Linked DNA regions of Homo sapiens. The protein of the gene in region 2 interacts with the protein of the main gene of each other region in a pairwise test. Each region holds a gene or a part of one and is shown on either strand. Other genes may lie near its edges.

Region 1 (12,587 bases), on a different chromosome or scaffold from region 2:
CCAGCTCTTTCCTTGAATTTATAAGGGTTCCACAATACTTCTAATCTTAGGAGATGGAAAAATCTTTTGATGAACAAAATGTTCCAAAGCGACGCTCAAGAAACACAGCTGTGGAGCAGAGGCTACGCCGTCTGCAGGACAGGTCCCTCACCCAGCCCATCACCACTGAAGAGGTGGTCATCGCAGCCACGTAAGTGCCCACAGGACTTCTCAGCCTTGTCTATAGTGTCTTTTTTTAAAAAAATACATTTAAAGAGTGTTCAATGAAAATGAGGCATTGGGGAGGTGATTTAGCTAGAAGCCACAGAGAAGTTAGTACTAAGGGATTTTGTTTACTGTGGTCTCTCTAAACTTTGTAATGGGATGTGTATCTTCTAGAAAAACTTGAAAGGAGTTTTTGTTCTATTTTGTTTCTGTCTCTGCATATTGATATTTTAAAAATCTCTTTGACAACGGAAAATAGAAACATGAAACTTGGTGGATTGCTGTGATGAAACCCCAGCTTCCACGGTCACCCGCTCCTGGCCGGTGATGCTCAGCCCGTGTGCCATTCATTTCCCCTTTCCTCCTGTGCTATTTTCAAGCAAACACTAGAGGTCTTACCATTTCATCCATAAATATCCCAGTACGCCCCTCTAAAAGATAAGGTTTGTTTTGTTCTTAATTGCCAGAAATCTCTTTTCTTTTTTTCTTTTTTTTTTTTTTTTTTTTTTTTTTTTGAGAGAGAGTCTTGCTCTGTCACCCAGAACGGAGTGCAGTGGCATGATCTCGGCTCACTGCAACCTCCGCCTCCTGGGTTCAAGCGATTCTCCTGCCTCCACCTCCCGAGTAGTTGGGATTACAGGCATGTGCCACCACACTCAGCTAATTTTTGTATTTTTAGTAGAGACGGGGTTTCACCATGTTGGCCAGGCTGGTCTCAAACTCCTGACCTCAGGTGATCCATGCCTCAGCCTCCCAAAGTGCTGGGATTAATTGCCAGAAATTTCTAAAAATTAAATTGCAGTTTGATAACTTTCCAAACAATAGGAAGTTTGTTTTGAATAATATGTTTCAATATATTCAGAATTAATTTCCCAGAGTAGTTCATTCAGAGATCATTGCTTCAATCAAGTGAAAAATTTTCTTATTTTTGCGGGGGGCATTGTTTGTTTTTTTGAGGCAGTGTCTCACTCTGTTACTCAGGCTGGAATGCAGTGCGCCATCTTGGCTCATTACAGCCTCAACCTCCTGGGCTCAATTGACCCTCCAACCTCAGCCTCCCAAGTAGTTGGGACTGTAGGCCCAACCACCACACCTGGCTAATTTTTGTATTTTTTGTGGTGATGGGGTTTTGCCATGTTGCCCAGTCTGATCTTAAACTCCTGGGCTCAAGCGATCCTCCCACCTCAGCCTCCCAAAGTGCTGGAGCTACAGGCGTGAGCCACTGTACCCAGCCTAGTTTTGTTGTTGTTGATGTTGTTAATTGGTTTTGTGCTTACCTTGGACACACAGACACCCTTCCTGGAAAAAAAAATAGTTCATCCCATTAGGTTATTGACATCCCAAAAGGCCTCTATGTCAGTGCCCCGTTCTGTAGACCTGCTGTTAGATCAGCTGCCTACAGTTCCTCCCCGAGTTGTTCCTCAGTTTCTTGGTGCATTTGTAGCTAAGTATATCCTTGCACTCATTAGGAACTCTTTGCAAATCAGTTTGTTTTTTAAAAAAAGAAATATTTGAATGGCTGGTGTAAAATAACAGGCAGATACCCATGGGAGCAAAACAGTAAATATAAGAAAAATTAATCCCATTTTAAGGCTCAATAAATCTACCTTGATGTGCCTATAGATTGTATAAGAACACTGATACTTTTAAAAAGTAGATTGAGGCCGGGTGCAGTGGCTCACACCTGTAATCCCAGCACTTAGGGAGGCAGAGGTGGGTGGATCACCTGAAGTCAGGAGTTCAAGACCAGCCTGGCCAACATGGTGAAACCCCGTCCCTACTAAAAAATACAAAAATATTGGCCAGGCATGGTGGCGCACGCCTGTAATCCCAGCTACTCGGGAGGCTGAGGCAGGAGAAATGCTTAAACCCAGGAGGTGGAGGCTGCAGTGAGCCGAGATCGCGCCACTGCATTCCAGCCTGGGCGACAGAGTGAGACTCTGTCAAAAAAAAAAAAAAAAAAAAAGGCTGGGCCCAGTGGCTTACACCTGTAATCCCAGCACTTTGGGAGGCTGAGGCAGGTGGATCACGAGGTCAAGAGATCAAGACCATCCTGGCCAACATGGTGAAACCTCATCTCTAATAAAAATACAAAAATTAACTGGGCGTGGTGGTGCGCGCCTGTAATCCCAGCTACTCAGGAGGCTGAGGCAGGAGAATCACTTGACCCCGGGAGGCGGAGTTTGCAGTGAGCCAAGATCATGCCACTGCACTCCAGCCTGGTGACAGAGACAGACTCCATCTCCAAAAAAGAAAAAGAAAGAAAAAAATTAGATTGGAAACAATATTCTAAAACACAGACATAATCTACTGATTTTTTGATAGCTAATATTTGCTTTTTTGAATTATTATTTTTTTTACACCAAGACATGTATTCTCAAGACAGAGTAAATCCTCCCAGCTCTGAACACCTATTCTTACCCCATTTGCTTTGGGTAGCCACTATCTCTTATTTCCTGAGTTTGTATTTGCTTTTGAAGTTCTTTCGTGATTTTTTCTCCCCAAAAATAATTAGCAAAATATTCTGTTAAAATTTTTGATTTAACGTTTCTGAATTTAAAACTATGCTGTCCTTAATGCTTCTTTTCTTCTCTCTCCTTATGAATGTTTCCTCTTTGGCAATTGCTTTTAAAGTGAACCTATCCCCGCTTCGTGTTCTGGGGGCACCCACCCTGTAATGGCGAGACTTCCTAGCCCCACTGTAGCTAGGAGCGCTGTGCAGCCTGCCAGGTACTGGACAGATACAGATGCATGCGGCACCCGGTGCAAAGGTGCCGAACAGCAGATGCATCCTAAAGTCTTGAATGTCTGTCGTTTGTTTGACAAACAAGTCAATGCCGTGAGTTGTTCCAGAATGCGTGGCATTTTGTTTTGTCATAGCACAAGGTGCTGATAACCACATGCTGGCGTGCGTGGGAAAACATTTTGTCTCTCTGCATATGTTATGTGTTAGAACTAGGATCACACTAACTCACGTATCCAGTTGCTTTGTTTGTTTTTCATAATAATGGTCATCCCTCAAAAATTTTGTTCTTCATCTAAATACTGTTATAGCACTTAATAAAGATTAATAGAAAAATGGGACATTGGCCAGGCGCGGTGGCTCATGCCTGTAATCCCAGCACTTTGAGAGGCCAAGGCAGGTGGATCACGAGGTCAGGAGATTGAGACCGTCCTGGCCAACATGGTGAAACCCTGTCTCTACTAAAAATACAAAAATTAGCTGGGCATGGTGGCATGTGCCAGTAATCCTAGCTACTTGGGAGACTGAGGCAGGAGAATCGCTTGAACCTGGGAGGCAGAGGTTGCAGTGAGTCAAGATCGTGCCACTGCACTCCCGCCTGGTGACAGAGCAAGACTCTGTCTCAAAAAAAAAAAAAAAAAAGAAAGAGAAAAAAAGAAAGAAAAAAAAAGAAAAATGAGACATTAACCTGAATGTTGAAATGCTGATAAGACCCAGTCTTTTTCAAACACCTGTAGACACAAATACAGACTGAAAACAATCCTCCCTCTTTCTAATTTATAGAGTCAATGCCATTATATTTTGGGACTGGGAAAATAACAATTTGTAGTGTCTAAACGTAGATGTTTTACTGTCGTGTTTCAGATTGTGGTGCTTTAAAATTATGTCCTCACATCAGGTCATATCCCTTCATTTTACTGTTATATGAGCCAAACCGCAAAAGCTAAAAATAATGGCAGTGCCGGGATAAAGCTGGTACACCCACAGCAGGGCCCTCCCGGAGAAGTGGGTTTCCCTGCCCTCCTGGTTACTGCACGAGGTCCACGGAGGACTCTGAGGCTCAGGTGGCTTTTTTGTCACTGGCCTCATTATACACCTGGAATATGGAAGCTGGCTACTCTTTGGCCTGGGATAGCCTGTGCATTGGGGATTCACTAGAATCAAGGCAGAATATCTCCTTTACTAGATCTGACAATTGGATCGGTCAGGGACAGAAGATATAGTGCATTACAAACCCCTAGAGATTCATATTGACCGTGAAGACTTCAGGCTTTCCTTCTCTTCTAGCTGGAAGTTGGAGGGAGCTATTTATTTATTTACTGATTTATGTATTCATTCATTTATTTTTGAGACAGAGTCTTGCTCTGTCGCCCAGGCTTCATCACTGCACACTGCAGCCTCTACCTCACAGGCTCAAGCGATCCTCCCACCTCAGCCTCCTGAGTAGCTGGGATCACAGGTGCACACCACCAAGCCTGGCTAATTTTTATATTTTTTGTAGAGATGGGGTTTCACGATGTTGCCCAGGCTAGTCTCCAACTCCTAAATTCAAGTGATCCTCTTGCCTTGGCCTTCCATAGATATGAGCCACCAGACCTGGCCAGTTGGAGGGATTTATAATCACCTGAAATTTTCTTTACTCCTCTGGTTACTGGAAATTGCAGATTTAAGTACCTTTTAGAAAACTGGTAGGAACCTATGAGAGTAAATGCTAAGCTGAAGCAGTGACTCTTTAAAAATTAAGCCATTTGTCTTTAGCAAGTAAAAATCAAGACCTTCTGTTATGTTGTTGACAGAGGACTATATCGTTTCCTAATTATTTAAAATGAAAGACCACCTTCTGAACCATATCTTTAGATAAGGTCTAAATACACCGTAGGTAATACTTTGTGACTCCCTTTCATTCTACTTATTACGATACTAACAATGCCGCCTCTCTGTCTAAGATAAGGTATAGCCAAGCTGACTTCAATGTCTTAAACAGGAAATTCGTTTTGTAGAAATAATTCGGAGCTCAAAGTCTGCTCTTTGTAGAAGTGATGATGCTAAGTGTCCTGTGCCGACTCTGCTTGTTGAGTAGCTGAACAGCTGCCTGCCTCTGTCCTAGACGTGCTTAGGGAAAAAGAAGCCCTTTGCAAAATGATGTGACACTTGGCAGAAAGTTAACGTAGAAACTTAGCGGTGTGCTTTTGTTTGTTGGTATATGTGTTGCTGACATTTTATTTTTTTCAGATTGCAGGCCTCTGCTCACCAAAAGGCCTTAGCCAAGGACCAGACAAATGAGGGCAAAGAGCTTGCTGAGCAAGGAGAACCTGATTCCTCCACTCTAAGCTTGGCCGAAAAGTTGGCCTTGTTTAACAAATTGTCCCAGCCAGTCTCAAAAGCGATTTCTACCCGGAACAGAATAGACACGAGACAGAGGAGAATGAACGCTCGCTATCAAACTCAGCCAGTCACACTGGGAGAGGTGGAGCAGGTGGGTGTGCTATAGTCCGATTGCAGTTTGTGTGTGTGTGTTCTTAAATTATAGCACTGCAGTATTCCTCTGAGGTCAATGATGTAATTAAGGTGCTCTACCAGGAAACTGCTACCTGTAGGTGATTTGGTAATAGCTTTCTTCCTAAAAATGAGAATTCTACCAAGTATGTTGCTCTTTTTTTGTTTTCATACCTTGCTTGCTGAAATATCTAGAATGAGTCCATTTTGGAGAGAAAAAAATAGTATGCCCAACTGTGTTTCACCCAGAGGATTTTGTTTAATGAGACGTATTATATAACTATGTCCAGGAATGGTTTTCCACTAAGAGAAACAGTGAAACTGCATCAAATCGAGTATTTCAGCTTCTGTCAATTCATAAACCAGGATTTATATAGATGATATTTTTCAAGCAGCTTTTTAATTTTTAACTGTGTCCTTCCAGGTGCAGAGTGGAAAGCTCATTCCTTTCTCACCTGCCGTGAACACATCAGTGTCTACCGTAGCATCCACGGTTGCTCCAATGTATGCCGGAGATCTTCGCACAAAGCCACCTCTTGACCACAATGCAAGTGCCACTGACTATAAGTTTTCTTCTTCAATAGAAAATTCGGACTCTCCAGTTAGAAGCATTCTGAAATCGCAAGCTTGGCAGCCTTTGGTAGAGGGTAGCGAGAACAAGGGAATGTTGAGAGAATATGGAGAGACAGAAAGCAAGAGAGCTTTGACAGGTCGAGACAGTGGGATGGAGAAGTATGGGTCCTTTGAGGAAGCAGAAGCATCCTACCCCATCCTGAACCGAGCCAGGGAAGGAGACAGCCATAAGGAATCTAAATATGCTGTTCCCAGAAGAGGAAGCCTGGAACGGGCGAACCCTCCCATCACCCACCTCGGGGATGAACCGAAGGAATTTTCCATGGCTAAAATGAATGCACAAGGAAACTTGGACTTGAGGGACAGGCTGCCCTTTGAAGAGAAGGTGGAGGTGGAGAATGTTATGAAAAGGAAGTTTTCACTAAGAGGTAAGTGACCAGTGCCCCTAAAGCTTTAGAAAGCCACTGGGTTTTAGTTTCTGCTTGATTTGTCCTGTGTCTATGATGGCTTTTAACAAAGTTCTATAGGCAGTTTACAGCTAGTATTGGTTAAAAGTTCAGCGGGAATCCTATTCTTCCCTGGATCTGACTAGAGGATACATCAAGTTTTCAGCAATAAAACTACTGGAAGAGCTTTCACACATCTTCATGGAGTTTCTGTTGACTTTGGTCACTCACACAATGGCCTTCTGAGCTGCTTAGTTCTGGTGGCCCCTTTTAGAAATTGATGACCCCAAAGGTCCAGGCTGGGTAAGCACAAGGAATTCAGGAAAGACTTGACCCCAGTCTCTGAATCGCTAGAGTGCTTCTTCCTGCATGCCTGTTTTGCAGGCTAGCAAGCTACACTGCGTGGGCCCTTCATCCTCTTTCTACGTTTGTATGAAACAGTACAGTGTAAGTTATAATAGGGGTTTGCGTTTGTGAGTATAGCACATTTGAATGTTAAGGTATTATTTTGGAGAATAGAACCATTCTGGAGTAAATAGTTAAAGCTGACTTCCTGTGTCTCGCACACAGGAGAGAAACCAATTGCCACGAAGCATTTTGCTGTGTGGGTAACCCTCCAGGAAGTTTGGTTTTCTCACAGAGTGTAGCGTGCTGCAGATTTGCATAAATCCCAGTGGATTGGGTCACCCGCCGTGTGCCCACGGATTGAACCCTGAGAGCTGCACTGTTGAGGGCGAATCGCTGGAAGAATGTTTGCCTGAGGAGTTCAGTGCTGATGTTGCTCTTTTCCTTCCCAGCGGCAGAGTTCGGGGAGCCCACTTCCGAGCAGACGGGGACAGCTGCTGGGAAAACTATTGCTCAAACCACAGCCCCCGTGTCCTGGAAGCCCCAGGATTCTTCGGAACAGCCACAGGAGAAGCTCTGCAAGAATCCATGTGCGATGTTTGCTGCTGGAGAGATCAAAACGCCGACAGGGGAGGGCCTTCTTGACTCACCCAGCAAAACCATGTCTATTAAAGAAAGGTAATGAGATTCGGTGAGCGAAAAGTAATTCTCTCGGGGAGGAGCTTACAGCTTGCTTTTAGAAAACAATCTCGGTGATGGGCAAAGAGATGAAATCATACATTCAGCTTCTAACAGGACTGTGCTGTTGTCCTGGAGTAATTCTAGGAAGCTGAGGTGTTTGAGAGTGAACTGCCTTTGCTCATGAGCCTGGTTTGGTAATGAGCCTGGTTTGGACAGGGCTGGTTCCAGACTCAGATGAGAAAACAAACAGAAACAGACTTCTGTTTTATTTATTTGTTTCCACTGTCCCAATATCTTTTATAATATTAAATTCTTGGACTATCTAATGACAGGAGCTGAAATCTTGGCTCTTCCCCTTTTAGATACACAGGGTTCATACTGAATGCACAAACCACTTGTGACTTTGTGTAAAATATGTGTAGAGGGAGTGAAGATAAATTTACATAGAGGGCATATATCTTTGGACTTAGAATCCAAGTTTTGTTTCTTTTACAGATTGTAAAATGGATGACTTTTCTGAACTGCATTTAGAAATTGTATGTCAGGTAATAGCTTGAAAGATTGCATTTCAGCATCAAATAACACAGTAGCCTAATTTCTTTCAAAAGAATGACGTAGGGTGCAGAGGAATATATTTAAATTAGACAGATACAGAGAACTGGAAGTAAATTACCTTGGGGATGTGTTTTCCTTGTTAACCCTTAACCACAGATGAATTAAGCAGCAAAAGATGCAATAGTGGGAATAAATTCAGAGTTTGATAGCAGAGTAGGGTGACTAAATAAAAACGTATTGTACTGAGGTGATGGACATTCTAAATAGAGGCTTGATCACTATGCATTTTATATGTGTAACAAAATTTCTCATGCACCACATAAATTTGTACAAAAAAAGGAGAAAGTATTCAGTAGGAAAAAAACATGATGGAATAGTTGATAGGAAAACTGGGTGAAGAAAAATCTTGTCAACTCCATATTAGGAGAACCATTTCCATCGCCTGTTCCCACAGTTCTGCCAACCTCCACCCTTCCTCAGCACCTCCCACCACACGGAAGTCTGCAGGCTTCACTGACCACTCTTATTTTTCTAGATACATTTCAAACTGCCTAAGACTATACTAAACCACAATGAAAAGTCTTCTTTCTTTCTTTTCCTTCTTTCCTTTTTTTTTTTTTTTTCTTTTTGAGACTAAGTCTTGCTTTGTCACCCAGGCTGGAGTGCAATGGGATGATCTTGGCTTACTGCAACCTCTGCCTCCCGGGTTCAAGCGATTCTCCTGCCTCAGCCTCCCAAGTGGCTGGGACTACAGACGCACACCACCACACCCAGCTAATTTTTTGTATTTTTAGTAGAGTTGGGGCTTCACCGTGTTAGCTAGGATGATCTCGATCTCCTGACCTCCTGATCCGCCTGCCTCGGCCTCCCAAAGTGCTGGGATTACAGGCGTGAGCCACCGTGCCTGGCCCCTTCTTTCTTTTTTTTTTTTTTTAGAGGAATGGTCTTCCTCTGTTGCCCAGACTAGAGTGCAATGGTGCTGTCACAGCTTCACTGCAGCCTCGAACTCCTGGACACAAGTGATCCTCCTGCCTCGGCCTCCCCAGTAGCTGGGACTGCAGACACGTACCACCATGCCTGGCTAATTTTTTCAAAAAGATTTTTTGTAGAGTTGGGAGGTCTCACCATGTTGCCCAGGCTGGTCTCGAACTCCTGGCCTCAAACAGTCCTCCCACCTCAGCCTTCCAAAGTGCGGGGATTACAGACATGCACCACCACACCTGGCCCTTCTTTCTAGTTTTAAGCCAAGCTTCTTGAACATTATTTGTAAAATAATAGATGCTATCTTTTTCAACTGACAAATTAATCACATTGTTAAATCTGACTTACTTTCTCCTTTACTTACTTAAAATTCATGATAAGTTAGACCTGGCAGGCTGAGGGGCATAGGGAAGGGGCAGAGGGGACAGTGCAATGAGGAGAGGGATGTCTTCAATCGGGGAAGCAGTTGGGCCTATTGAGGCTTGAAGTTCTCTTCCACGAAAATGGGGCTCAAAGAGAGTTTCATCCCAGAAACCCAAATATTGACAACTGGTTAGGTGAGGAAGAAGAGAGATCATTTAAGGAAATTAACAATAAATATCACTTATACACAAGTTCTGATGTTTTACACATGAGAAAATATCCCTGGGGTATTCCCCAGTGGGAAATACTAATATTATGCCCCCTTCTTTCAAAGGCTTTTAAAGGAGCCTTCCCATCTTTGGGAATATTCTGTCCATCTGGACTTAGGACTTTTGATGAAGAAGTCCTGTGTCTATCCACTAAGCAATAATTCCTGATTTACTTACCTGTTTTTTGGTAAATTTTAGTTGACCTGTATTTTTCTGAAAGCTTTAATCCTACTGTAAAATTCTCATTTTTAAAAGTGAGATACTGGAAAGACGTAGCTTCTTAGCTTGGGCTTTGTGGACATGTAAGGCGTTCAAGGATGGCTGTAAAGTTTCTGTGAACAGCCCGGAAGTGTATTCAGAATTGAATGGGTGAGCACACACACCTGCTGGCTAACAGAAGCCATAACTTATCATGGTCTCCAAGAGATCCCTGAGCCCAGTCTGTTCAGAATCATGATAGAAAGGAATGCTTGATTGATATTCAGCTATTCAGTTTGTTAAAATACATTTATGAAAGAACAAGGGACACTTTATTTAGCAGCTATGCTTGTAATAAATTACACTAATGCAAAATATATTGCCAGTGATCTTTTCCCCCTTACCTTCACAGTACTTTTATTTGTACTTTGCTGAAAGTGACTAAATTACATATATTTACAATTCATCCATGATAGCTTTTCCATGAGACTTTAATCCCTCCCTTTTGTGAAAATGAAATAATGAAGCTTAAACTATTTAAAATAAGAATGTTATTCCTCCATTTATTTGGGCTTTACTTTTCCTTCTTGAGAAAGAAATATATAAAATCATAGGACTTCCAAACTTTATTCTAACCGCCTCTGACTGCCTCATTTTACCAAAGGAGGGATTCGGCTCCGGTAGCCTCCAGGGCCACGTAGTGAATAGAGCTGACCCAGGGGCCACGTCTCCAACTCTCCCCTGGTCCATGGTGAGACCGCGGTGCGCTCAGATTAGTGTTAGAGCAGCCAACCCCGTGTGCTCTAACCAGGAGAATACGGTGAGAGGACAGAAATCCCAGCTAGACAGCAGTGTTAGAAAGACACACCTTCTTTCTTCATGAATTTTCTCAGTTCACATGCTCTTAACAGGGCTTATATTTCAAATTACACATCCAAGTTCACATTTCAGAGTCTCAGAAATAGAGTCTGGAATTTGCAGATTTCCTTCATCGTTTTTTATAAATGCCTGTCCCCACTAAGGAGGGCAGGTCTGTCTTCTTCAGCCTTGTTGTGTCAGTCTCTCCCCTGTCCAGGGCCTGACTATATTAAGTTCTCAGTGCTCAGTGCTACCCAGCGTCACAGACTGCCTTCCACATTTTGTACATGATCTCTCATTTAATTTTTGTCTGTTTGTTTGTTTTTTGAGATGGAGTCTCGCTCTGTCACCCAGGCTGGAGTGCAGAGGCACGATCGCGGCTCACTACAACCTCCGCCTCCCAGGTTCAAGTGATTCTCCTGCCTCACCCTCCTGAGTAGCTGGGATCACAGGAGCCCACCACCATAACCAGCTAATTTTTGCATTTTTAGTAGAGGCGGGGCTTCACCATGTTGGCTACGCTGGTGTCGAATGCCTGACCTCAGGTGATCTGCCTGCCTCAGCCTCCCAAAGTGTTGGGATTACAGGCGTGAGCCACTGCGCCCGGCTTTCATTTAATATTGAAGACAGCCTCCAGAAGAAAGCAATATTATCCCCATTTGTAGACAAAAAGCATAGAAACTAAGAAATTATAGGAAAACCTCCATACACTCCTTTTTTAGAATATGTTTGATGCTCAAGGAAACATATTAAAAAGTTATTTTTATATTTATTTATTTATTTGTTTATTTTCTGAGACAAGAGTCTCACTCTGTAGCCCACGCTGGAGTGCAGTGACACGATCTTGGCTCACTGAAGCCTCCCCCTCCTGGGTTCAAGCGATTCTCCTGCCTCAGCCTCCCAAGTAGCTGGAATTACAAGCACTTACTACCATGCCTGGCTAATTTTTGTATTTTTAGTAGAGACAAGGTTTCACCATATTGGCCAGGCTGGTGTCAAACTCCTGACCTCCAGTGATCCACCCGTCTAGGCCTCCCAACGTGCTGGGATTGCAGACGTGATCACCACACCCAGCCTTAAAAAAATTTTTTTTCATCTTTTCTGACATTGTGAATGTCAAATTTGAACCATAACCAGCAAAAAACTTAGGATGCAATCGACTTTTCCCACCGGATTAGTAAAATTGCTATTTTCTGACTGTCCAAATGATGTGTGTTTAAATTATCCCTGTTTGGGAACTTCTTTGAGAAACATTGCGAATTAAATAATTCTTATGTTATTTAGGGATAAAACCTTTGCTATTGCTTAAAGAGTATGTTAGGCCTTTAGAAATCTTATTTCCACAATGTCAGAAACAGTGGCATCTGAGCTTTCTTATTTAGGGAAAAAGACTATTGAAAAGAAAAAAAGAGCCATCCTTTCACTTTGGCAAATTGGTGGCATGTAAGGACTTAGTGGAACTCCCTGAACTGTTGCAGAATCCACCTCACGCCTCTATGGTGTTCTGCCCTAGAGGGACCGGCTGGAGGCTCCTGTGTTTCCCGCCTGCCGGCCCCCGCCCCAACCATCCACCCTTCGGTATCCCACCCAGCCAGAGGCTGTCTCCCTGTCTCCACAAACTCCAGGTTCTTACCCTGTAGCTGGGAGATTTCAGCCACTAGAGGGCCCCAGATTTATGTAGGAATAAGAATAGAGCGGCAGTTCCCCTTTACTCCCTCCTTTTCTTTTTCTTTTTCTTTTTTTCTTTTATTTTTCTAGACAGGGTCTTGGCACTGTTGTCCAGGCTGGAGTGCAGTGGTGCGATCATAGCTCACTGCAGCCTCCACCTCCTGGGACTCAAATGATCCTCCCACTTCAGCCTCCCAAGTAGCTGGG
Region 2 (12,587 bases):
GAAGACAAATAAGCAAAAAAGAAAAAAAAACTGTTCCTCTTTCCTGTTTTTTCTGCATACATATATATGCATACCACTTTTATTTTATTTTTTTTTTTTTGGTTGGGGGAGACGGAGTCTCGCTCTGTTGCCCAGACTGGAGTGCAGTGGCACAATCTCAGCTCACTGCAACCTCTGCCTCCCAGGTTCAAGCGATTCTCCTCCCTCAGCCTCAAAAGTAGCTGGGATTACAGGTGCCCACCACCATGCCCGGCTCATTTTCATATTTTTAGTAGAGACAGGGTTTCGCCATATTGGCCAAGCTGGTCTTGAACTCCTGACTGCAGGTGATCTGATCTGCCCACCTCAGCCTCCCAAAGTGCTGGGATTACAGGCGTGAACCACTGCACCCAGCCGTGTATCATTTTTAAAAGAAAAATAAGGCCAAGCATGATGGCTTACACCTGTAATCCCAGCACTTTGGGAGACCAAGGTGGGAGAATCACTTGTGGCCAGGAGTTCGAGACCACCCTGGGCAACACTGCAAGGCCCTGCCTCTACAAAAAAATTTTAAAAATTAGCCAGGTGTGGTGGTGCATGCCTGTAGTCCTAGCTTACTCAAGGGGCTGAGGCCTCAGAGGTCAAGACTACAGTGAGCTATGATTGTGCCAATGCACTCCAGCCTGAGTGACAGAATGAGACCCTGTCTCAAAAAAATTAAAAGAGAAACCTAAGAAGAGAATCAAACTCTATCTCAATTTTTTTTTTTTTGAGACACAGTCTCACTCTGTTGCCCTGACTGGAGTGCAGTGGTGCAATCTCAGCTCACTGCAACCTCCAACTCTTGGGTTCAAGTGAACCTCCTGCCTCAGCCTCCAAGTAGCTGAGATTGCAGGCACACCACCACAACCGGCTAATTTTTTTGTATTTTTAGTAGAGACAGGGTTTCACCACATCGGCCAGGCCGGCCTCAAACTCCTGACCTCAAGTGATCTGCCCACCTTGGCCTCCCAAAGTGCTGAGATTACAGGCATGAGCCACTGTTCTCGGCCTCAAAATATCTTTGAATTAGGCCGGGCCCATGTGCCTGTAATCCCAGCTACTCAGGAGGCTGAGGCAGGAGAATCAGTTGAACCAGGGAGTTGGAGGCTGCAGTGAGCCGAGATTGCGTCACTGCGCTCCAGCCTGGTGACACAGCGAGACTCCGTCTCCAAACTAGATAAATAAAAGATTAGCCAAGACAACCCCACACCTTTTAAAAAATGATCACATTGGCAGGTATTTTTTTTTATTATTCTTTTTCAGAGACGGAGTCTTGCTCTGTCACCCAGGCCGAGTGCAGTGGCACGATCTCAGCTCAATGCAACCTCCACCACCCAGGTTCAAGCGATTCTCATGCCTCAGCCTCCCGAGTAGCTAGGACTGCAGGCGTGCACTACCACGCCTGGCTAATTTTTTGTATTTTTAGTAGAGATGGGGTTTTGCCATGTTGGCCAGGCTGGTCTTGAACTCCTGACCTCGTGATCCGCCCACCTCGGCCTCCCAAAGTGCTGGGATTACAGGCATAAGCCATTGCGCCTGGCCATGGCAGGTTTTTTTTTGTTTTTTTTGTTGTTGTTGTTTTCCCAAACATACAGGTTTCAGGATGGGGAAGAGCTTATCTTCATACACGGCAGGTAGGAGTAGAAATTGTCTCAAACATCCTGGGTTACAACTTGACATATATCCAAATCCTTAGAAATTTGCATTTCTTTGGACCTAGCATTTTTATTTCTGGGAATGACTCCTAAGGCAATACTTACACGTGCAAAGAGATATGTTTAAGAACTTTATTGCAGCCTTATTTATGATATCCAAAATTAGAAGCAACCCAAATTTCTACTAAAACATTCTTGGTTAAATACGTTACTGCTGATGGAATATTGTACGTTAATTTAAAAGGATGTTATAGAAAGATATTTCATAACATGAAAAGTTCAATTGAAAGTTTATTTTTTTTTTTTTTTAAGACTGAGTCTTGCTCTATTACCCAGGCTGGAGTGCAGTGGCACCATCTTGGCTCACTGCAACCTCCACCTTCCAGGTTCGAGCAATTCTCCTGCCTCAGCCTCCCGAGTAGCTGGAATTACAGGCGCCCACCCCCACACCATGCCCGGCTAATTTTTGTACTTTAGTAGAGACGGGGTTTCACCATGTGGGCCAGGCTGGTCTCGAACTCCTGACCTCAGGTGACCCGCCTGCATCAGCCTCCCAAAGTGCTGGGATTACCGGCATGAGCCACCACGCCCAGCCTATAAATTATTGACTAATATTTATCAGAACAAAAAGACAAAGTCAGAAAAAAAGAAGTTGGGGGCTGGGCACAGTGGCTGGAACTCCTGACCTCAGGTGATACACCAGCCTCAGCCTCCCAAAGTGCTGGGATTATAGGCGTGAGCCCCTGCGCCCGGCCTACGGCTCACTTTTTGAACCTCTACAGCTATTCAGTTTCCAAAGTGTAACCATTTTATCTGCTTGCTAATGGAAAGGAGTTCAGAAATAAATTACAGATTTGAGGAGGGAGAAATCAAACAAAAAGAGAGGCAATCTGTGAGCACTAACTTAGTGTAAAATCTGTTGAAAAGCATATTGCCATTTGCTCTCAAGTTAGTTTCTTGAAAATACAAGGGCATGAACACCTTCTTCTCTAAGTCTAAAGGTAAAATCAATTTTTATTCCTGAAAGCTAGCTTGCAGTTATAAAATTGCTATAATCAAACACTTCCCGTAAAAGCTAAAAGTTTTGACTGCTGCTTCAGTGTGTCTAATTTTCACTGTGCCATGATTTTTTAAACCCCTCTTAGATAACTGGAACACTGACTGGCATCAAGCCTCTAAAGCAGATTCAAGCTAAGACATTTCACCTGATTTAATCTTGTCTGTAAAGTGATTCGTCCTCCAGGAGAAGGCATCCTGCTTAGTGCTGCCTCAATCTGTTAACACACGAAAAAAATATGTTTAAATTACTGGCAGGGAGGTTTATCACACAGAATGGAAAGAAAAGGTTTTGGCTTAGTATTTCCTTGTCCATTTCATCTCAACTTAATTTCCCTCTGTCAATTAGTAACGACCACATGGCTCAAATCCGTTGCTAGCACAGCTCTGGTATGTTATCCCATTGTAATTTCCTGAGACAGGTTTGACTCAATAATTCCCTTCTCCTTAGACATAAGCATTAAGTTCAGAAAACAATTTTTAAAAATATTTGTTTGTTTTTACCTGGTCCTTTTCTTTTGTAAGTTCATCAAAAAATCGTTCTGTTTCAGCTAGGGTCCGAATTTTTGCTGTATATTCAAAATCATTCCCCTGTGGAGTGACTGAAACCGGCTTACACTGTTCGTAGCTAACTGATTTATTCTTCTCCCAGGCTGTTCTCACAGATACTTTCTTCACTCCATTTGGCACCGGTTCAGGGCAAGAGCTATGATTAACATGGTTATCGGTGGCTTTCTCAGAATAAGTTTTTTCTGTCAGAGAGGAGAGAAATTGCTTATATTTCTTATCAATTTTTCGTGTAGGTTGCATATATATTAAATATGTTGCCCAATTTCACTTTCTGGATATAGCTGCTATGTGGCCCAAAAAAGTAATGAAAAGAGATACAATAATCAATCTTATTTACTCAGTGCTTTTTTCTCCAAAGAATTCTGAAAGCTTTGCCCTCTGTTTGACAATCTTTGCAACTTCCCTTAATGAACTTAAGCAAACTTCATGTAAACATAAATGAACTTTAAGTAAACTTAAAGCAAAAAAAAAAAAAAAAGCTTAAAAACTAAATAATACATCACATTTAGTGGACATACACCAACACTAAACAGTTAATGTTTTGAGGGCCTACCCAAGTGATTTCACATACATTGTCTTATAGCTTTATTCCAAATTTAGAATATAAATGAGAAAAAAAAAGTTACCCAAAGCCTAAGCTGCATATAGAGAATAAAAGTAAAGAGAATAACTGAGCAGTGTGGCCCTGGTAATTAAACATCAACATTCCCTGTACCTCAGTTTCCCAACTTTTCAATGAGGATAACAACATTGACATAACAACACGTAGCATCATGAGTGCTTAGTTTCAGACGCCCTTGAGTGGGAAAATATTTAAGTGCAAGATATTATAATATTTAGAACACTGAGAGATACCAGAATCTCAAAAAATGAATGATTAAAACCATAACTAATATTTTTTAGGAAAAGATACCTTCCGAGTCATCTAGAGGAAGAAACTGGAGTTGCTTTCTTGGATTGGTACGTTGTAATGTAGACACAGGAACAGTATCTAAATCATCCAAAAGTATATCAAATCTATTGAATGAAGCAAGTTACTTGTGAGAAAAAAAATGTTAACTGATTTTCCCTATCTCCACTACAAAGATGAGCTGGCATCCAGCTAACTCACATATTTATGTATTTTCTTAAAAGAAAGCTGGTTATGTAATTGTCTAAAACTGAAATTTATTTCTATTTTCTAACAAAATTGTATTTACAAACTAAAGACTTAAAACACTTACCCATACATTATCTCATTTGATATTTATAAAAACCTTATGAAATAAGCAGGGTAGTTATTATTATCCCCGTTTTATAGAAGAGGAAACTGAGGTTCAATGTGCTTAACTCATCTCCGCAAGAGCCTGACAGAGTTGGGTCTGGAACCAAGAAGCAACATCCCTCCCCGCTAATAGCACACACAGCTGCCCACACTTCGGAGGGGACAGATTCTCAGCAGCACAGGTAAACATGCATTTGGTGCCAGGGCCATACCAGTAAAGCCCACTTTCCTGTACAAATGGCCCAAAAGTTTTCCCGTATCATAAACCTTTTCAGGAAAACAAAGAACTATCATTCTACATACAAAAGCTGACAGGGGTGCTGAGGTGATAATTTAAAATCTAGTAGTAGCAAGTTTACATAGTTAAAAACTGTGTTCATTGTACTGCAGTACTTTAGTTGTAGTATGACATTCACTTATGATTTAAATGAAATTCACAGAGTTCCCACTGGTAACTGAAAAATTAGTGATAGCTAGAGACATAAGTCAACATTTAGAAAAAAATCACTAATATAGTAAACTTTATTCTACAATTTTAGAGAACTTACCGAATTGGACTGCTCTCATTTTTGCTAAGCAGATGACTAAATCCTGGGGACAAGTTTTCTTTAGGGGATCGCTTTGGACTATAAGCCACAGTCACTGGTGTTAGCATAATCTCTCTTTTTGCTATAGAAGAAAATGAAGAGGAAATATTCTTTTCCTTCTATATGTATCAGCATAACAGTTTCTTATTCAGTATTTTTTTTCTAATTTTGAAAGGAATATAATTTCAACGTAAAACTTTGAGAGAGAAATAAGAGTGTACAAAAAAATAAAATCACTCATAATCCTAACACCTAGAGGTAACCACTGTAACACTGTAGTATATCAGACAGTACTTTCAGCACTCTGACTCAAAACTGGTTTTTCAGGATTTTAGAAGTCGACTGGAAATAAGATGGAAACAGCAGTACACTACTGAACATTCCTATAACACAATAATAAGAATCTCCTCAGCTGGTGTGAAAACGGAAATTCAGGACAGGAATTCAATGCTTCAACTTTAAAACCAACCTGTTATTGGCTAAAGAAAAATGGTGACTAATGCTAAGTACTTGAGATCAAATACATAAGAAGTATATTTGAGACTAGCTTGGATTAATTTGATTGAATTAATGTTTGGATAGCTGGCATTTTTAAGTATTAGTTGCAAACAATTTAGTGGACACAATAAATTATTAGTATTAGTTGTAAACAATTTACTGGACACAATAAAAAATCTCACTTTAATAAACAGATTTCTTCATTTACATTTGTAGTATCTATGTGATCAGACAATTTTATTTATGAACAAGATCTTATTTAGGGGTCCTCTGCTCAGAGTACTCTACTAGGTGCTGAGGATACAAGAGAAACCAGAAACAGGCAAGCAGCGGGCACAAATAGATTTGACTCAGAGATCACGCTTTTGAACCCAAGAGATGTACACATCTAACTCTTACTTGGAGTACTTGATTTACGATTTGAAGGTGGTAAAGATGATGATCTCTGTGAGGCCGAATTAAGTCTCTTTTGTCTCTGTTGGGCACACTTTTCTGGAGAACGACTTGCATTAACTGAAGTTTCAGTTTGCCGAGGATTTACTACAGCAGACCAAAAAAAAGCAAAACAAAAAACAAATCAAAACAAGCCTACGCTTCAGTTATCCACCTTTATTAACAGGTGGTTACACATGGTTACACACCAAGCCCCACAGCTTAGGTTCTGCTCAAAGCATTTATTCTCACCAGCTAGGTTATAGTGACTATTTGCAAATGCACCACATTATAATGATAAAAAATGCTTGATGAAGAAAAATATGGGAGTTTATAATGAATTCATTCTGGCTCCCTGTTTACAATCGGCATTCAAGGTGATTTTCAAGAGGGTTATTTTTAGAAAGCAGGTTACTAATTTATTTACTAAGAGACACTGCTTGGGAGATGTAACCGCAAAGACGCTGGCAGGATGACTAAGGGGTCTGAGAAAGCAAGCATAGTGGAAAAGGAGAGAAATGTATTGGTGACCTGGACCTGTGAAAAAACACAGTATTAAAGACACTACTTGCCTTATCTACAGATGCTCAGTAACCAAGAAAGAAGAGGAAATGTTATATCTCACTTCATGAATACCAAATGCCTATCACAGCCTTCTGATGTGTGCAAGTAAGATGGACTGACAGGAATTTTTCAAATATCCTTAGGAATGCCATGTAAGGCCAGGAGCAGTGGTTCACGCCTGTAATCACAACACTTTGTGTTTACACTTTGTGTTGTGTTGTGGAGGACAAGGCGGGTGGACCACTTGAAGCCAGGAGTTCGAGACCAACCTGGCCAACATGGTGAAACTCCGTCTCTGTTAAAAATATTAAAATTAGCCGGGGGTGCTGGAGGGCACCTGTAATTCTAGGTACTTGAGAGGCTGAGGCAGGATGATAGCTTGAACCCTGGAGATGGAGTTTGCAGTGAGCTGAGATTACGCACTGCACTCCAGCCTGGGCAAAAGAGTGAGACTCTGTCTCACTGTCTCAAAAAAAAAAAAAAAAAAAAAAGAATGCCATGTAAGCCTTTTTCATAATCGGAATGTAAGATTCAACTGGCTTTGTACAAAAGGTACATGTTATGCCAGAACTGTGATAAATTATTAACTAGGACATTCAATTCTCTATGAAACGGGGCTGAAGTAGCAGTAAAATAGCAAGTTTACAGAGCTAAAACTTTTAATTTCATTACCTAAATATTTTAATTTTAACGAAGGTAATATAAATGGGGAAAAGATATCTATATCCATCTATCTCAAACAAGGAAATACTCACTATTTGAGGTGTCCTCTTTCTCTGTCTGTGTCCCCCAATTTTTAAATATTTTTCCCTCATCAAGTTCTTTTAAAGCTCTCATGATCGGCGTGTCTGAAGTCTCTCTTTGCTTTTTTATCAACAAGCTTGTTGATGAACTTCCAGGTGAAGAATCCTTTTCCAGAGGTGAACGGTGCCTTAAACAATAATTTTAAGACATACAGTGCTATGGACTAAATGTCTGTATCTTGCCCCCCGCCCCCACACCAAACATACATGTTGAAGCCCTAATCTTCAATGTGATGGTGTGTGGAGGTGGGGTCTTTACGAGGTAATTAGGGTTGGATGAGGTCATGAGGGTGAAGCCTCCAAGATGGGATTAATGCCCTTATGAAAAAGGGAAAGAGGCAGGAGCGCTCTCTCTGTGCACACACACCAAGGAAAGGCCATGTGAGGACATAACCAGGAAGAGGGCCCTCACCAAACACTCAGCACCCTGATCTTGCACTTCCAGCCTCCAGAGGTAGAGAAAGAAATGTGTGTTGTTTATGCCACCCAGTCTACGGTAATTTGTTATAACAGTCCAAGCTAAAACACACACTTTACTGGGGTTGTTAGGGGAATAACAGAGTTGACAATTATACTCCACAATGAGCATGCTTTGCAATGCAAATAAATTAAACCTGCATACAGTGCTTTCCCATCCTTCTAGTCCTACACTTAGAGGAACAGCATCTGCACAGCACCCTGGAGTAAGCGGCTGAGGCTGCTCACGCAGGCTCGGGGCTCGGGCTGGCCAGAGCCATCTGAAGTGGGAGAGGATCTACATCTTTTGTTTGTTTTTAGACAAGGTCTCACTCTGTCACCCAGGCTGGAGTGCAGTGGCACAATCATAGCTCACTGTAGCCTTGAGCTCCCCAGGCTCAAGTAATCCTCCCACCTCAGCCTCCCAAGTAGCTAAAACTACAGGCGCATGTCACCATGCCCGGCTAATATATTTATTTTTTGTAGAGGTGGGATTTTGTCATGCTGCCCAAGCTGGTCTCGAACTCCTAGGCTCAAGCGATCCTCCACGTTGGCCTCCCAAAGTGTTGGGATTACAGGCGTGAGCCACCACACCTGGCCTGAGGATCGACATCCTATCCTAATCACAAACCCATACTGTGCCACTGAGCACAGGTGGGGAAGCTTGGCAGAGCTCATGGAAGTAAAATATTCTAAAAGTAGTAGCCTTTCAAAGTAAAATAAAAGTCAGGTTCTCAAAATTAAGACATTAAAGAACCAAAGAGAGGGCTTCCCAAACTTTTAAAAGCAATTGAAATCTCTAAGAAAACATAACATCCCTAAATAGAATCTTTAGCAAAGTTATCTCACCCTAGGCTACAGGTTTCCTCCAGCTGGTTATCCACGTTACTGTCCTGGGTGTCCAGAGGCTGGCCAGTAAAGATGGAATACTCTGCACCTGGAATCAGCCATTTCCGCCTGCTGACGTCTGAAGTTGCTAGTGTGCTATTAGAATGAAAACGGTCAGGCATTATAAAGGTCTGCACTTCATTTCAGACTGCATGTGCATATAAAACAATCTGCTCTCAAACAGTATTTACACATTTGTACACTAATTTAAAAATCACATGTAACAATCTATATTTTGGATACAATTTATTTTACAGTTTTATGATTCAACTTAACTGTTGTTCTAGGTTTCTGTTACTTCTGAATCTCAGTCAAGATTCAGGTACTTGCGGCTCTGAACATTCCCCTCACTGTCTCTCAGGCATTTCACACCCTTTACACTCTGTGCCCCTACTGTAGCTGAGGGTAAAGTGCTGAAGGAAGCAGGGCTGCCCTTCTTGTTCCCTTCAGACCAGCACTGTCCAACAGAATCTTCTGCAAAACCAGAAATGCTATCTGCACTGTCCAATGCAGCAGTCACAAGTCAGGTGTCACTACTGAACACCTGAAATGTGGCTGCTGAGACTGAAGAACCAATTATAAAACGTTAATTTTAATAATGAAAGTTTTCAGTATCAAAATGGAGTCACTAATGTCAAACTCCCAAAAAATGGAGCTGGGAGGCACAAAGGAGCAGCCTCTCACACAGATGCTGATTATGGGAACTATTCTGAATTCCTCAGAACGACAGTATTCCAGATAATAAGCTGCTTGTACAAGGAAACATCCCTAACAAGGGATGTCTCCACCACTGAGCTAATGCTAATGCCTGCAACATGCTCCTGTAACCAGTGGTCTTTGTTTTAAAATAGCTTAGTGGACTGTGGACTGCCCTTTGTCTTTTAAAGTTTCCTGTGTCCCAACCCCTTTGGACATGCTTATGGTTCACCACAGCATGCGTACTCCAGCTTGCAAACCCCCAACATTTCCAAATAAATTTCTTTGGAGAGTCAGTCTCTGTCACTGATTTTAGGTTGACATGATTGATTTAAATAGTAATAGTGGCTGTTGGCAGGACTGTACTGAACAGCGCAATTCTAGACATTGCTCCCCCAGCTCATCTGAGGTTCCCACCATCATGTTAACCCCCAGTCATTCCCCAGACTTTAGAGCCTGCCTTGTTTTCTCCACACCTATGCCTGTTCTCACACTAGGCAACTTCCTGACCACTCTCTCCAGTGAGGTGACCCTCTACTCCTCAGCCAGCCACCTCAGAGGGTACTTGCTGGCTTTTGTCAAAACCAGAGAACACACTCCCCTTAAGAAACCAATACTCCAAAGACTGTGCCCCTATTCTGCCTCCCGCCCTCAAGCTTCAGCAACGTGACCTACGATCCTTGGCCTCTCCATTTTCCATTTATCAACCCCTCCTAGTCTGACTAGGTCCTCTTGATCTACCCTGAAGTCCACACTCACGATACTTTCTCTCTCACCTTTCACCACACCTGACTGGCAGCAAAATCTGAGGACTGGCTGACTACAAAGGCCGCGCTTCAGGTCTCAACTCCTACCACTGAGCTTTGCTGGAAAAAAGCCACCAGCTGGGCAGACTCATCACCACCTCAAGCGGACACCCCAAACCGCCTGACCGCCTGGCAACATGACTTTCTTTTTTTTTTTTTTTTTTGAGACGGAGTCTCGCTCTGTCACCCAGGCTGGAGTACGGTGGCGTGATCTCGGCTCACTGCAAGCTCCGCCTCCCAGGTTCAAGCGATTCTCCTGCCTCAGCCTCCCAAGTAGCTGGGACTACAGGCGCCTGCCACCACGCCCGGCTAATTTTTTTGTATTTTTAGTAGAGACGGGGTTTCACCGTGTTAGCCAGGATGGTCTCGATCTCCTGACCTCATGATCCGCCCACCTCAGCCTCCCAAAGTGCTGGGATTACAGGTGTGCGCCAACGCACCCGGCCGGCAACATGACTTTCTGTAACCAGCAAGCTTCAGTTCTCCAAACATGACTATCTCACACCCTTTCCACCCTCCTCAAACCTCCCATCCCACCTTCGTTGACAGGTGAAACTTTTGAGTCAAATTCAAAGAAACACCAGAAACCATGAAACAACTCTTGTTTTCTCTCTGTCCCCTTTCACAACCAAACATTTTAGAGGCTGCCTCTTCTATCTACATTCACTTCAACTCCAGTCACTCTTTCCCTCAGTTTTTTTTTTTTTGAGACAGAGTCTCACTCTGTCGCCCAGGCTGGAGTGCAGTGGCGCGATCTCGGCTCACGGCAAGCTCTGCCTCTTGGGTTCACACCATTCTACTGCTTCAGACTCCCGAGTAGCTGGGACTACAGGCGCCCACCACCACGCCCGGCTAATTTTTTGTGTTTTTAGTAGGGATGGGGTTTCACCATGTTATTAGCCAGGATGGTCTTGATCTGCTGACCTCGTGATCCACCCACCTTGGCCTCCCAAAGTGCTGGGATTACAGGCGTGAGCCACTGCGCCCGGCCCAGTTTTTAAATTAAGAACTATTTCAGGGCCAGGCTCAGTGGCTCATGCCTATAATCCTAGCACTTTGAGAGGCCAAGGCGGGCAGATAACGAGGTCAGGAGCTCGAGACCACCCTGGCTAACATGGTGAAACCCCGTCTCTACTAAAAATGCAAAATAAAAATTAGCCAGGTGTGGTGACGGGCACCTGTAGTCCCAGCTACTCAGGAGGCTTAGGCAGGAGAATGGCATAAGCCCAGGAGGCGGAGTTTGCAGTGAGCCGAGATTGCACCACTGCACTTCAGCCTGGGCAACAGAGCGAGACTCCGTCTTAAAAAAAAAAAAAAATCTTCAAACATTCTTGGAAAATTACAAAGAATACTATAACAAGCATCTACTCACCCATTCTCAGTTTTAATAAATGCTAAGATCTTGCCAATTTTTTTTTTTCTTGAGATGGAGTTTTCCTCTGTCACCCAGGCTGGAGTGCAGTGGCGTGATCTCAGCTCACTGCAACCTCTGCCTACCAGGTTCAAGCAATTCTCCTGCCTCAGCCTCCACAGTTGCTGGGATTACAGGGGCCCACCACTGTGCCCAGCTAATTTTTGTATTTTTAGAAGTGACGGGGTTTCACCATGTTGGCCAAACTCCTAACCTTAAGTGATCTGCCCACCTTGGCCTCCCAAAGTGCTGGGATTACAGGTGTGAGCCACGTGCCCAGCCCGATCTTGCAAAATTTGTTTTTAATTATAAGACCAATTTTTATATATTTAATTACACAGAAGGCATAATGTATTAATACACATTTTTAAATGTCTTTTTTTTTTTTTGAGACAGGGTTTTACCCTGTCCCCCAGGCTAAAGTGCAGTGGCATGATCATGGCTCAGTACAGCCTCGACCCCTCAGGCTCAAGTGATTCTCCCACCTCAGCCTCCCGAGCAGCTGGGACTACAGGCGCGTACCACCAACCACCACACCCAGCTTTTTTTTTTTTAAGACAGAGTCTCGCTCTGTCACCCAGGCTGGAGTACAGTGGCTCGATGTCGGCTCACTGCAACCTCCGCCTCTCAGGTTCAAACCATTCTCCTGCCTCAGCCCTGTGAGTAGCTGGGATGACAGCTGCGTGCCACCACATCTGGCTAATTTTTTTGTATTTTTAGTAGAGACGGGGTTTCACCATGTTGGTAAGGCTGGTCTCAAACTCTTGACCTCATGATCCACCTGCCTCAGCCTACCAAAGTGCTGGGATTATAGGCGTGAGCCACTGTGTCTAGCCGCTAACTTTTTATATTTTTTGTAGAGACAGGGTTTTGCCATGTT

What was found.
Region 1: the proteins of MPHOSPH9 (region 2) and SVIL interact in a two-hybrid assay, tested with the Homo sapiens proteins (one study listed by BioGRID).

The regions. Positions count from the first base shown.
Region 1 is NC_000010.11:29,517,308-29,529,894, reverse strand, and holds part of SVIL (supervillin), read left to right. Parts: intron 1-50; coding exon 51-190; intron 191-2,838; coding exon 2,839-2,934; intron 2,935-5,179; coding exon 5,180-5,423; intron 5,424-5,867; coding exon 5,868-6,444; intron 6,445-7,259; coding exon 7,260-7,485; intron 7,486-12,587.
Region 2 is NC_000012.12:123,157,900-123,170,486, forward strand, and holds part of MPHOSPH9 (M-phase phosphoprotein 9), read right to left. Parts: intron 8,891-12,587; coding exon 8,756-8,890; intron 7,579-8,755; coding exon 7,403-7,578; intron 6,203-7,402; coding exon of another isoform or gene 6,192-6,202; coding exon 6,051-6,191; intron 5,236-6,050; coding exon 5,115-5,235; intron 4,320-5,114; coding exon 4,216-4,319; intron 3,485-4,215; coding exon 3,237-3,484; intron 2,951-3,236; coding exon 2,882-2,950; intron 1-2,881. UniProt on the Homo sapiens protein: Negatively regulates cilia formation by recruiting the CP110-CEP97 complex (a negative regulator of ciliogenesis) at the distal end of the mother centriole in ciliary cells.